Linked DNA regions of Homo sapiens. The protein of the gene in region 2 interacts with the protein of the main gene of each other region in a pairwise test. Each region holds a gene or a part of one and is shown on either strand. Other genes may lie near its edges.

Region 1 (7,025 bases), on a different chromosome or scaffold from region 2:
TTTCCTCAACTTCTTGTGATTGATGTTACCAGTATTTGATTCTTACTCCTGTACAAAAATCTTAGAGCACTTAAGGGAGGGCAGGAAGGCAGGCAGCCCACAGAAGGAAGTTTCTGGACTCATGCAATTCTCCCTGTACAGCACTCAGTTTCAGTATAACCTCAAAATCCTCCAGGAACTCTGGTCAGTTCTACACAGCACCATCATACCCCCTTTTCTGGGATGATCTGCAAAATGTCTTTGGAGGCAATTCTGAAAGAACAGTTTCAAAATTGGTCTAAGTAATATTAATACTAGCATCACTACAGTAAGTACATGATTTCCCAAGGGTATCATTTTAAAGGATAATCATTTGATCTATGAATTATGATAAATTTGTTTTAAAAAGCATTAAAGTTTATTTTTAAATTACACAAAAAGCACTGTTTAAACAATGGTTATAACTAGTGAACATTAAGAAATCTTGCAGGCAGGTGGATGGGATTGAAATACTCTTTCTTGATTTTATAGTTTAAGGGCCAAATTGAGCACTGTTTATGTCTGCATCAGCTACCATTAAAAACTTTGAGGCTGCTGGACACTCAGTAAGGAATCAGAAGTTTTTTAAAAAGATGCAAATGAATGGAATGTGTCATTTCAAAGCCTGTTTGGTAAAGGAGAATGGATGACCCACCTTTTTTTAAATATTTTTTTGAGAGAGGGTCTTGTTCTGTCACCAAGGCTGCTCCTGAGTTCAAGTGATCCTCCCACTTCAGCTTCCCATGTAGCTGGGACCACAGGTGTGTGCTATGCCACACCCAGCTAATTCTTAATTTTTTTCATACAGACAAGAGTCTCACTATGTTGCCCAGGCTGGTCTCAAACTCCTGGGCTCAAGTGATCCTCTGGCCTCTGCCTCCCTAAGTGCTGGGATTGCAGGCATGAGCCCCTGCCCCCAACCCCCATCTCAATTTTGTATAGAGGCTGTATAGTCTGAGAGACATAAAAGTTTTTGTAGCTCAACAGACCTAGTTAACATTCCTGGCTTCACCCCTTTGTAGTTGAGTAAACCTCTGCAAATTATTTTCTCTGAAGCCCAGTTTCCTTACTTGTAAAATGCCTGGTGAAGTGCCTGGCAAACAGAAGGTATTCAAGAAATACCAGTTCCTCTGTGAGGGTGTTTTTTTCAAGCTAAGGGTTGCAACCCATTGGTAGATATCAATTTAGTGGGTTGCAACTGGCATATTTTAAAAACTGAAACAATAAAAAGCATCAGAATGGTAAGTATTGTTCATTAAACATATTCTAAGGTTTGATATAAATGCGTTTTTTACTGTGGGTTACAGCCAAAAGGTTTGAAAGTCTCTGCTCTACAGAGAAATTCTCAGATTATGTTAAAAAAAAAAAAAAAGTCCTTAGGATTGCTGCCTTTATCCAAATGAGGGCCCACAAATTTTAAGACATTAATCAAAGTGTTCCCACTTTCTAACTTGTTGCAGTAAAAATAAGACATGGAGAAAATATTTAATCTGATATGATAAAACATTAAATTCAATTTTAAGATTGGTTTCTGTGTCACACTGACTATGCTTATAAACACTTTATCATTTATAGTTGATCAAACTCTTCTAGCAATTTCTATGAAAAAGTTGGCTATTAGGTTCCATTATAGGGAAATGAGATACTTTTTAAAAGGACTGTAACTTGCCTATGTGTGAAGACTGCTAGAGTAATATTCCAATCCTGATGAGCAGTAAAAGTCAAGGGCTTATATGAGTACATACAGTGGTATTCCACACTGGCTCAGTAAAAATGAGAGATACCAATACCAAGTGTGAGCTTCAAATACAGGCCTCCTTCAGGTCTTTATGTAAACCAGATTTACCTTATAATGAATCCCTAGTGCTGCCGCTAAGTTGGTGGGCTGAAAGGATAGCCAATTTGGGATGGAAGAGTGGGGTAATATGCAGTGATGAAGAAGGGTAGAATACTGGGAGTTTCAGAATTAAATGACACAGCAGAATCTTGATGTAACTGTTTCTTAGATTTATAATTTCAGCTGACTATGCTGGACGGGTGATGTCAGAATTACCCCTGGAACTGAGGTTTAGGAATCTTGCTTTAGTATGTGCCTGGGTGAGTTCTGATCCTCATTCAGGTTTGATCACCCTGTGTTAAAGTGACAGAGCAAGGTCCAGAAACTAGAGAAGAGGTGTAATTCAAAAGTAATTATCCCAGCCTCACAGGTGTCCAATATCACAGGTGTCCAATACTGGATCAGAATCTGACACTTATTCAAAGTATTTCCTTCTTGGTATTATTAATATGTTAATGATATAAAGCAGCAGAGAGCAATACTTGATACTTTCTAGTTATTTAATGATACTAAGAAATGGTGCTGTTTCACTGGATTTCATTGATGAGATTTAAGACGTATGAAAGAGAAAGTCTCTTTAGACAGGGACATGAAAGGTAGCCATCAATAAAAGTTACTAAAAGTAAACTCAGAAAGAAAGAAGTGATAAACCATCCAATCCCCTAATGAACCTTAGCTCCTGGCAGAGAGACAGCTCACACCTTCTGGGGTGCAGGTGCCCATCCCTGTGCTCAGAAAAAAGCGTTAAGTAAGGCAAAAAGTGATTCCTCCTATTTTAAATGAGTTGGGGTACAGAGGGGAGCTGCCTGTAGTCTTGAATTCTTTTTTTCCAGTATTAAAGCCTTTCTGCGGTTTGAGATAGACATGCAGTTGGGCTGGGCCATGCTTGCTGTGAATGTCAGGTGTTGAGATTAGCACCACACCATTCCCCGGGTCTGAGTCTTGCATGCGTCTTTGTCCATCATTGTCTAGAATGTGAGAAAGGTAAGCATGGGAACGCCATTTTGGGGAAGAAACACCAGCTATAGAAAGCAAAGGGATGCATAGGAGATAAAAAGTCTGGGGAAAAGGATGTGAGGTAGCAAGCGAGTTCTCAGCTCCCCCCAGAGACCAGCTGAAAAGAAGACTGGGTCAGATACCCCCTATCTGGCAGATATATCACCCCTCAAAACTGGAACATGCCCCAGGAAATGTTCTTGGTGGTTTTTTTCTCCTTGCTCATTTTAGCCCAAACTCTAACAATGTTGAAAATATCTCGAAATTTCTTTTTTTCTTTTCTTTTTACCTAGAGGTTATAGGAAGGGATGAACAGAGATGACAGACAAGACAAAAAAGGTTATGAGAGAATTCCTCATTATACATGGGTAGAATTCACCCCAGAAACCAAAGAACTTTTCATAATTACAAGGGAGGGACAGCACAGGGCACAAGATCTTTGAGGTGTTAGAAGACAGGCTGACAGACCAAGCTTGGTGACTGGCTTAATAAGTCTCCTACCACTTGAAATTCTGTGTTATTTATTTAAAGAGAGGCAGAGGAAGAGTTCAGAAGCCAGAAGATTTTTGGAAGAGAAGTTGAGCCTCTTGCATTTTCTTACATCATTAATTTCCTTCACCAGAAGATATAGTTGGACCAAATTGCAATAGGGTTCGCCAATGGACTCCATTATGTAGTCGACCTGTGCTCCTCACTAGGCCCTGATTTCGCTATCTGATAACAAAGGCTTCTGAACTCTTATTCTTTTCCTCACTAACAAACCTCAATAATCTACACTTAGCATTAAGGTCTCCAATTCAGGGTTATGGAAGAAACTAGTCTTCCATAACCCAACGTTTCTACACATCTCAAGTCCTTATCAGAGTTATAGGTTCAGTTTTCACATTTCCAGGGAGAAAATCTGCTCCTTGGCAGTCTTCAAACTTTACCTGACATACATTATATACCCTCAGCCCAGGGCCTCAATCTCTTAACATCTCCATGAACACCCCAGCAAACAACAAAATATATCCATTTATCACACTTCAATCCCACTTGAACATCAGTAGCCACTATCTTGATATACTTGTGTTCCAAAAGGTGACGGAGTGTCCAACAGCAGCAAAGGTCCTCAGGATAGACATGTTGGCACCAATAATACTGAAATTTGGTTTTTAACTGCATTTCTTGTCAGTTTGGCTGGGAAGATCTGGACAGCTGGAAGTGAGCTTCTCCATCATTTTCTGTTTCTTTCTTTGTATCAATTTTCCACCTGTGAAGCCCAACACCCCACCACCAAGTGCAGCTGCAATTCCTGCCACTTTGAAGCCTGCAAGGAGGCCAATAGGACCCCCTACCATTCCCCCGATGAGTGCACCTGCCACAGGCAGAGCTGCCAGCTTGTATTTTGCAGCCTGTAAAAAAAAAAAAAATTCAATTTAGAAACTGAGTTGAGAATATCTGCCTGTGGTGATGTGCGTTTTCCTCTCATTACTCCTGGCAATGCCTCTTTAACTCTTGGTACATAATTAACCTTAGAGACTGTACTTGTAGGGGGGAAAAGAAAGTATTCCACAGGTACTGCAATTGCTCCAGATCTCAGAACTTAGAGAGCTGAGCTACAAAGAGTGGACTGCTACAAATTGATTTTACTTGCAAAACAATCAATTCACTAACTATCTAGCTGGCTTATTTAAACTGTTTCGGCAGCCACAGATTTCCCCCAAAGCTTTTATGTTGCACAGAAATTATTCAGTGCTGTGTGCCTGGGGTTAAAAGCAACATCCTATGGAAAATAGATGGTCCCACTCCATGTGTGCTGTCACATACTTACACTTTTACCCTCTGCAAATATTCCCTGGTAACACCAAATGCCTTACAGCAGAGCTACAGTTTATTCTCTCTTTGAAGAAATTCCTCTCCTGATAGAATGAATCTTAGAGTAGAATATTACAACATTGATTTCTTACACTACCTATGTGTCATTTCTTCCTTATTTCCTTAATTGCTGGTTCCCTCAACATTGAAGAGAGCAGATCAATTGGGTTAATACTAGAGATTCCTGGGAGCCAGAGTACCATTGATTTGTCAGCAGGAGCAGAATCTTACCTTCCCTAAGTTTTTGGTTCCCTCTTCAACATTCACAGCAGCACTGTTGACATGGTCTGCAATGCTGTCAATCTTCTCCTGCTGAGACTAGATGCAAAGGAATTATGAGTGAGCGGTCCTGCTGGGGAGCAGCAGGGAGCCAACACACACTATTTTAATTCCTGTAATCAGGGCCCTGGGTACTGCAGCCTTGCCATCTTAATAGTGGTTCATTAATAGCATCTGATAAGCCATGTCGAAAGGACAAATTAACTTTCATAAAAAAAAGGGGGGGGTCTTAATTATTAGGTAATAAAAGGGTGGCAACTTTACAGCAAAAAGCATCTCACGCTAAAATTCACTCAAACATACAAACATATTATTCTCCAAATGAATCTACTTTCCAGAAAAAAAAAATCCAAATAAGCATTTACATGTCATGTTGGGTTTGATGGAAAAAAAAAACCCAACAAAATCAAACCCCAAAATACCTCCCTAACTTACCTTCTTTGAGGATTCAGTTTAAATCAGGCACATTTACCTTAGGAGTAAAATGCCCTTGGTCCAATAAATACAAATTGTTATGTTTCAGGAACAAGACTACAATACGGTTTGATCTATTATGAGATCTTTCCATTTGTAATATGCAGTAGGGAACAGTGAATGAAATCACTGTTCTGTGCTTTACACCTGTGTATCTTAATACATTTTAAAATCATGACAGTTTAAAATGTTTCAGATCAAATATATTAATAAAGCATTCTACATAAAATGGCAACACCTGTGCTGGCACAACAGCAACTGTGACTCATGGAATCTCTGGGTAGAAGGAATGTTGAGGTCATCAGGTCAATCTCCTCTCTGATGTGCGAAGCCCTACTGTAACATTCCTGACAAGTGGTTACTGAACCTCTGCTCAGATACCTCCAGTGACACGAACTCATTACTTGCTGTAGGAACACATTCCCATTTTTAATTCAACTTTATTTAGATAGAATTTACATATAACAAGTACTGCTTTTAATGGTATAGTATGATGAAATTTAGCAAATGTATAAACCAACTATCACAAATGTATAAACAACAAATGTATAAGCCAACATATAATCAACCATCACAGTTTACAGACTATTTTGGTTTTGTTTTTTTAATGTGCAGAAAAAAGAGAATCTCTCTTTGATCCTAGATAGATGCCACCTGCAATGAGGGTGAAATAATTCAACTTTAATCCTGAAGTGTTTGATTGCCCTTATATAATTGGCCTATTCATTTATATTGAGGCAGACACATACAACACTTTTCTAATTCCAACCATTATTTCATTTGAAAACATGAAGCCCAAACCACACAGCTACTTTTTCCCCATGTTTGTTTCCTCTTAGCATTACTGATATTACTTCCCTTCTCATACACAAAATATGTCTATCTTCGCCATTGTGGTATCCCTTCATTCCAATATTCTCCACCACTATCTTGACATCTCTAAAACAATGCCTAAGAAAGTCCCTTATCAGTTTTCCTTTGAATGTCTCTGTGAGAGACAACTTTAACAATGGTTCTCAGTCTTCCACCTGGAGGCTTCTTAAAACACAGATTGCTGGGCCTAATCCCCGGAGTTTCTGATCCAGTAGGCCTGGGATGAAGCCTGAGCTAGTAAGCTCCCAGGTGATGCTGATGCTGCCAGTCCACAATTCTCACACTTTAAGAACCACTATTATATGTGCTCAGATCAAGGGCACCACCTTTAGTCAGATAATCTGTGTTCAAATCTCAGCAAACGCCACTATGTGCTCTTAGACAAATTACTCAAGCTCTCTAGGTGTTGGTATTCTCATTTATCAAGTAAGAATAGTGATACTTATACCTTCATAGAGTTGAAGTGGGGATAAAATGTGTTTGCAAAGTGTGAGGGGGGAAAAATAGAAAAATTTATCCTAATTTCCCCAAGGAAGTGTTAACTCTCATCTCTCTATCAAAAAATATATTTAACTTTTTCTTTCGGTGCTTGAAAATTCTAGGACACTAAAACTTCAGGTATCTTTTAGCATTCATTCAATCATTCAATTTTTATTTTCCTCAATAGCAAAACTTATTTAAGTCAGCTTTC
Region 2 (7,025 bases):
GAGAATTGCTTGAACTGGGGAGGTGGAAGTTGCGGTGAGACGAGATTGTGCCACTGCATCCCAGCCTGGGTGACTGAGTGAGAATCTGTCTCAAAAACAATTAAAAAAAAAAAAGTTCTAGTCTCCAGAGCAGCAGCAGCGGCACCAGCAGCAGCAGCATCATAAACTCATAAATCAAAGAAACATGGGTAAGTGTGATTATGTTAAAAACATACACACAGCCAAAATTACCAGAAGCAATGTCAAAAGAAATGACAAAGGCGAACGCAGCCTACAAAGGGCGCATGTGCAGAGGGGCCTACAAACAGGCTCATTCTCGGCAGCACTGCCTCCAACAGCGTAGAGAGGAAAAAAATGCTCTCCAACAGAAAGCTGATTTAATACATTATGTACATCCAAACAATGGAACTCTATGCAGCTTCAAATGAGAATAAACAAGTATTGCCATACGTGGTAGAAAATGACTCAGAGATATTATTAAGAGAATAACGCAACATACCAAAGTATATATATCATATGCTACTACTTGTACAAAAGTGGGGAGGGATTATATACTATGAGCTGTAGCTGCATATAATATCCCCCCACCCCAAATTAAAAGAGAAATAGTGATTGCTTCTGGGATAAGGGGCAGTCTGAGAACTGGGGTAAAAAGTAGCTTCAGGCCAGGCACAGTGGCTCACGCCTGTAATTCCAGCACTTTCAGAGGCCGAGGCAGGTGGATCATCTGAGGTCAGGACATCGAGATCAGTCTGGGCAACATGGTAAAATCCCGTCTCTACTAAAAATACAAAAATTAGGCGGGCGTGGTGGTGGATGCCTGTAATCCCAGCTACTTGAGAGGCTGAGGCAAGAGAACTGCTTGAACCCAGAAGGCGGAGGTTGCAGTGAGTCGAGACTGTGCCACTGCACTCCAGCCTGGGCAACAGAGTGAGACTCTGCCTCAAAAAAAAAAAAAAAAAAAAAAAGGGCCGGGCGCAGGTGGAAGCTCAGGAGGCTGGACAACACGGTGAAACCCCGTCTCTACTAATACACAAAAAAATTAGCTGGGCGTGGTGGTGTGTGCCTGTAATCCTAGTTACTTGGGAGGCTGAGGCAGGAGAACTGCTTGAACCTGGGAGGTGAAGGTTGCAGTGAGCTGAGATTACACCAGTGCACTCCAGCCTGGGTGACAGTGTGAGACTCCATCTCAAAAAAAAAAAGATTTTCTTCTTTGTCTGCAGAGTGGAAGATTTATGAAGACTCAAAAAGCACAATCTAAAAGAACAAAAGTGATATATTTACCTGCTTTAGGGTGAAGGACTCACACTTCTGATTTCAAAGCTTATGGCAAAGCTACTGTAATCAAGACAGTGTAGTACTGGCATAAGGACGGACATACAGACATATAGATCAGTGAAACAGAACTAAAAGACCAAAAACAGACCCTTACATTTGTGGACAATTGATTTTTGACAAGGGTACCAAAACAATTCAATGAGGAAAATACAGTCTTTTCAACAAATAGTGCTGGAACAAATAGATATCCATGTGTAAAAAATGAAATTTGGACACCCACCTTGCATTACATACAGAATTAACTTAAAATGGGTTGAAGACCTAAACATAAGATGTAGAAAAATTATAAGCTGGGCGCGGTGGGTCACACCTGTAATCCCAGCACTTTGGGAGGCTGAGGCGGGAGGATTGCCTGAGCTCAGGAGTGTGAGACCAGCCTGGGCAACATAGTGAGACCTGTCTCTTTAAAAAATAAAAAATTATAGAACTCTTAGAAGGAAACATCAGAGTGAATCTTTGTGATCCTGGGGTAGGCAATGGCTTCTCAGAGATGATACTGAAAGCACAAGTAACAAGAGAAAAACTGGATAAAAGAGACTTCACCAAAATTTAAAACTTTAGTGCATCGAACGACACCAATCTCACCAAGAAAGTGAAAAGAACTCACAGAACAAAAGAAAATACTTGGAAATCATGTATCTGAGGAGAGACTTGCATTTAGAATCTATTAAGAATTCTTACAATTCTGTAATAAAAATGACAGAACCCAATTTTAAAAATGGGCAAGTGATCTGAACAGACATTTGTTTAGCTGAAGACAAAGGCCAACAGGCACAAGAAAAGATGATCAACATCCTTAGTCATTATGGAAATGCAAATAAAAACTACAATGAGACACCACTTCATACTCAGTAGGATGACTAAATTCAAAGAATAACAGGCCAGGCATGGTGGCTCACGCCTGTAATCGCAGCACTTTGGGAGGCTGAGATAGGTGGATCACCTGAGGTCAGGAGTTCAAGACCAGCCTGACCAACATGGCGAAACCCCATCTCCACTAAAAATACAAAAACTAGCCAGGCGTGGTGGTGCATGCTTGTAATCCCATCTACTCAGGAAGCTGAGGCGGGAGAATTGCTTGAGCCTGGGAGGCCGAGGTTGCAGTGTGCCAAGATCGAGATCGCACCACTGTACTCCAGGCTGGGTGACAAAGTGACAATCCATCTCAAAAAAAAAAAAAAAAAAAAAGACAGAATAATAAGTCTGTCCATGTGGATATACAACTGGAACCCTCCCACACTGCTGCTGGGAGTACAAACGGTACAGCTTCAGTGCAAAAGAGTTTGGCAGCTCCTCCAAATGTTAAATGCAGAGTTACCACAACTCAGCAATTCTACTCCTAGGGGTGTGTGTGTGTGTATGTATGTGTGTATGTATGTATGTATGTATGTATGTATGTATGTATGTATGTATTTTTGAGACAGAGTTTCACTCTTGTTGCCCAGGCTGGAGTGCAATGGCGTGATCTCAGCTCACTGTAACCTCCACCTCCCAGGTTCAAGCAATTCTCCCGCCTCAGCCTCCCAAGTAGCTGGGATTACAGGCATGCGCCATCATGCCTGGCTAATTTTGTATTTTTAGTAGAGACGGGATTTCTCCATGTTGGTCAGGCTGGTCTTGAACTCCCAACCTCAAGTGATCCATCCACCTCAGCCTCCCAAAGTGCTAGGATCACAGGCGTGAGCCACCACGCCCAGTCTCTACTCCTAGGTATATCTAAGAGAAATGAAACCATACATCCACATAAAAACTTTTCACAATATTCACAGTATCGTGACAGCCAAAAAGTGGAAACAACCCATCAGGTGTCCATCAGCTGATGAATGATAATATCATTACAATGGAATACTATTCAGCAATAAGAAGGAATGAAGGCCTCGCGCAGGCTTCAACCTGGGTGAACCCTCAAAACATTACACTAAGTGAAGATGCCAGACACAAAGGACCATTTATGTATTATAGAATTTCATTTCTAAAAAATCTCCAGAATAAGTTCAAAACCAGCCTGGACAACATAATAAGACGCTGTCTCTCCAAAAAATAAAAATAGAAAAAAAAAGAAATTAAAAAAAAATTAGCCAGGTGTGGCGGCACATGCCTGTAGTTCCAGCTACTCAAAAGGCTGAGGCTGAAAATTCGTTCAAGCCTAGGAGGTCAAGGCTGCAGTGAGGTATTATCACGTCACTGCACTCCAACCTGGGCAAAAGAGTGAGACTCTATCTCAAAAAAAGAAGAAAAGGAAAACTCCAGAATAAGCGAATTCATACAGACTGAACTAGATTAGTGGCTGCCAGAGGCTGAGGGAAGGAAAGATAGCGACAGACTGCTACTGGGCATGGGGATTCTTTTCGGAATAGTTAAAATGTGCCATACTTAGAGAGTGGAGATAGTTGCACAACTTTGTAAATACACTAAAAACCACTGAATTTTGCACCTTAAAGGAGAGAATTTCATGGCATTGTGAGTTTTTTTTTTTGTTTTTTGTTTTTTGTTTTTTTGAGATAGAGTCTCCCTCTGTCGCCCAAGCTGGAGTGCAGTGGCGCAATCTCGGCTTACTGCAACCTCCACCTCCCGGGTTCAAGTGATTCTCCTGCCTCAGCCTCCTGAATAGCTGGGACCACAGGGACCCACCACCACACCCGGTTAATTTTGTATTTCTAGTAGAGACGGGGTTTCCCCATGTTTCCCAGGCTGGTCTCAAACTCCTGATCTCAGGTGATCCACCCGCCTCAGCCTCCTAAAGTGCTAGGATTACAGGCATGAGCCACTTACCTCAGCCAGTATTGTGAGTTATAATAAATAAAGCTAATATTTTAAAATTTTAAAATTTAACTACTTTTAATGGGAAGTGTCTACATGATAAAAGACATTATACACAAAGTTAAGCCAGGCGCGGTGGCTCACGCCTGTAATCCCAGCAGTTTGGGAGGCGGAGGCGGGCGGATCATGAAGCGGATCCTGGCCAAGCAACATGGTGAAACCTTGTCTCTACTAAAAATACAAAAATCAGCTAAGCATAGTGGCGCACACTTGTAATCCCAGCTACTCAGGAGGCTGAGGCAGAAGAATCCCTTGAACCCAAGAGGCGGAGGCTGCAGTGAGCTGAGATCGCGCCACTGCGCTCCAGCCCGGGCGACAGAGCGAGACTCCGTCTCAAAAAAACAAAACAAAACAAAAAAACAAAGTTAAAAGACAAGTCACAGACTGGGAAGATACTTGCAGCTTTTATAATCCATAATGATCAACATCCAGAATATACAAAGAATTACTCAAAAAGAAAAAACGGGCAAAGAAAATGAACAATTTGTTGAACAGAAAATCTTAAACATCAATAAACATATAAAATGGGACTCAGCTTCACAGTAATCAGTACTGTGGTATGCTCACACTCATAAACTGGGCAAAAATTAATGCCTGAAGTTAAGGAAATGCCAAACTTACTTTGAATGCACCCTCTGATTCCATGGATAAGAGATCCCCATCGAATGGAATGAGATCTAAGCTGTACTCCTCCCTGTGAATAAAGGATCCCAAGACACCCAGATCCTTCAACCGCTGTTCGCACAACAGGCTACGGCGTGGCACAAACAGAATATGAAAATCTCTCGTTGGGCCTCGTCTATCTTCACTGCAAAGGAAGCAACATTTGTTAGCTTATGAGCTCCTAAGAGTCATGGACCATTTTGCTTTTTTTATCCCCACTGCCTGGCACATAGCAGGCACTAAATAAATGCTGGCTAGATAAATCATATAAATACTGACTCTCAGGCCGGGTGCAGTGGCTCACACCTGTAATCTCAGCACTTTGGGAGGCCAAGGCGGGCGGATCAGTTGAGGTCAGGAGTTCGAGACCAGTCTGGTCAAGGTGGCAAAACCCCGTCTCTATAAAATATACAAAAATGGCTGGGCGCAGTGGCTCATGCCTGTAATCCCAGCACTTTGGGAGGCCGAGGCGAGCGGATCACGAGAACAGGAGGTGGAGACCAACCTGGCCAACACGAAGAAACCACGACTCTACTAAAAATACAAAAAATTAGCCGGGCATGGTGGCAGGCACCTGTAATCCCAGCTACTTGGGAGGCTGAGGCAGGAGAATCGCTTGAAACCGGGAGGCAGAGGTTGCAGTGAGCCGAGACCACGCCACTGCATTCCAGCCTGGGCAACACAGCGAGACTCCATCTCAAAATAAATAAATAAAAACTAAAACAAAAATATACAAAAATCAGCTGGGCATGGTGGTGTGTGCCTGTAATCTCAGCTACTTGGGAGGCTAAAGCAGGGGAATTGCTTGAACCCTGGAGGCAGAGGTTGCAGTGAGCAGAGATTCCACCACTGCACTCCAGCCTGGGCAACAGAGTGAGACTGTGTCTCAAAAAAATAACCAAAAACTGACTCAGACCCAACGTGTTACAGCTGTACCCACTCTCTCTCTCTTTCTTCCCCCTGACAGGAAAGCATCACTGAGTCCTGGCGAGTACATTTTAGCATTCTCTTAAACCATTTATGGGGCATTGAAGCTCTCAGGTTGATTGAAATAGGATATCTGTGTCTCAATAAAAACAAATGGTTCTTCAACCAAAGCAATGCAGCCACAAAGAGTCTTAAATTAAAATGAAAGATCACTTTTGACTCCCACTCCTACTCTCCTTGACAGAGAACTTCCAAAAATAGCCCATATGCTTTTAAGATTTTAGGGGCTGCAACAATCAATTGTACCACAGAGTGCAGACTCGGCTGGGAGCACTTCCTCTATAGACTGGATGCTATATTAAAATTTAATCAGCTTTTTTTTTTTTTTTGCTTATGAAATTCAAGTACATGCAGTATATTTAAAAATAACTGCTGGAGGTTTATTTTTTTAAACTAGGGCCCTTTTTACTGACACAGGTTTAAGCTTTTGGCTATCTTTAAAGAATGGGTAGCTTTTGGCTATCTTGAAAGAATGGGTAGATAGGATGATCCTCCTCTCCAACTGCTGACAACAACTTCCTAAGTTTCTCATCCTCTCTATTTTTAATTTTTGGGGGGTACATAGCAGGCGCATGTATTTATGGGGTCCATGAGATGTTTTGATGTGGGCATGCAATGTGAAATAAGCACATCACGGAGAATGGGGGGACACATCCTCTCAAGCACTTACTCTTTGAGTTACAAAACAATCCAATTACACTCTTTTTTTTTTTTTTTTTTTGAGACGGAGTCTCCCTCTGTTGCCCAGGCTGGAGTGCAGTGGCGCGATCTCAGCTCACTGCAACCTCTGCCTCCCGGGTTCAACAGACTATCATGCCTCAGTCTCCCGAGTAGCTGGGACTACAGGCACAGGCCACCAAACCTGGCTAATTTTTGTATTTTTAGTAGAGACGGGGTTTCACTATGTTGGCCAGGCTGGTCTCGAACCCCTGACCTCAAGTGATCCACCCGCCTTGGCCTCCCAAAATGCTGGGATTACAAGTGTGAGCCACCATGCCCAGTCTCACTTTTTAAGTTTAAAAATACGTAATTATTATTAACTATAGTCACCCTGTTGTGCTATCAAATAGTAGGTCTTATTCTATTTTTTGTTGTACCCATTAACTATCTCCACCTCCCCCCAGCCCCCATCTTCTCTTTTATATTCTTCCATGCCTATCTCAGTTTTCCAAAAGACCACCTTGCACTGGCAAGAGTGAGGGTCTTCCATGAGAAGG

The links. Proteins that work in one complex are often made in the same cells at the same time.
Region 1: the proteins of VPS33A (region 2) and STX17 interact in binary tests that used the Homo sapiens proteins (3 or more experiments, as listed by UniProt).

Annotation. Positions count from the first base shown.
Region 1 is NC_000009.12:99,965,654-99,972,678, reverse strand, and holds part of STX17 (syntaxin-17), read right to left. Parts: intron 5,027-7,025; coding exon 4,940-5,026; intron 4,246-4,939; coding exon 4,006-4,245; 3' UTR 1-4,005. UniProt on the Homo sapiens protein: SNAREs, soluble N-ethylmaleimide-sensitive factor-attachment protein receptors, are essential proteins for fusion of cellular membranes.
Region 2 is NC_000012.12:122,256,482-122,263,506, forward strand, and holds part of VPS33A (vacuolar protein sorting-associated protein 33A), read right to left. Parts: intron 4,967-7,025; coding exon 4,780-4,966; intron 1-4,779.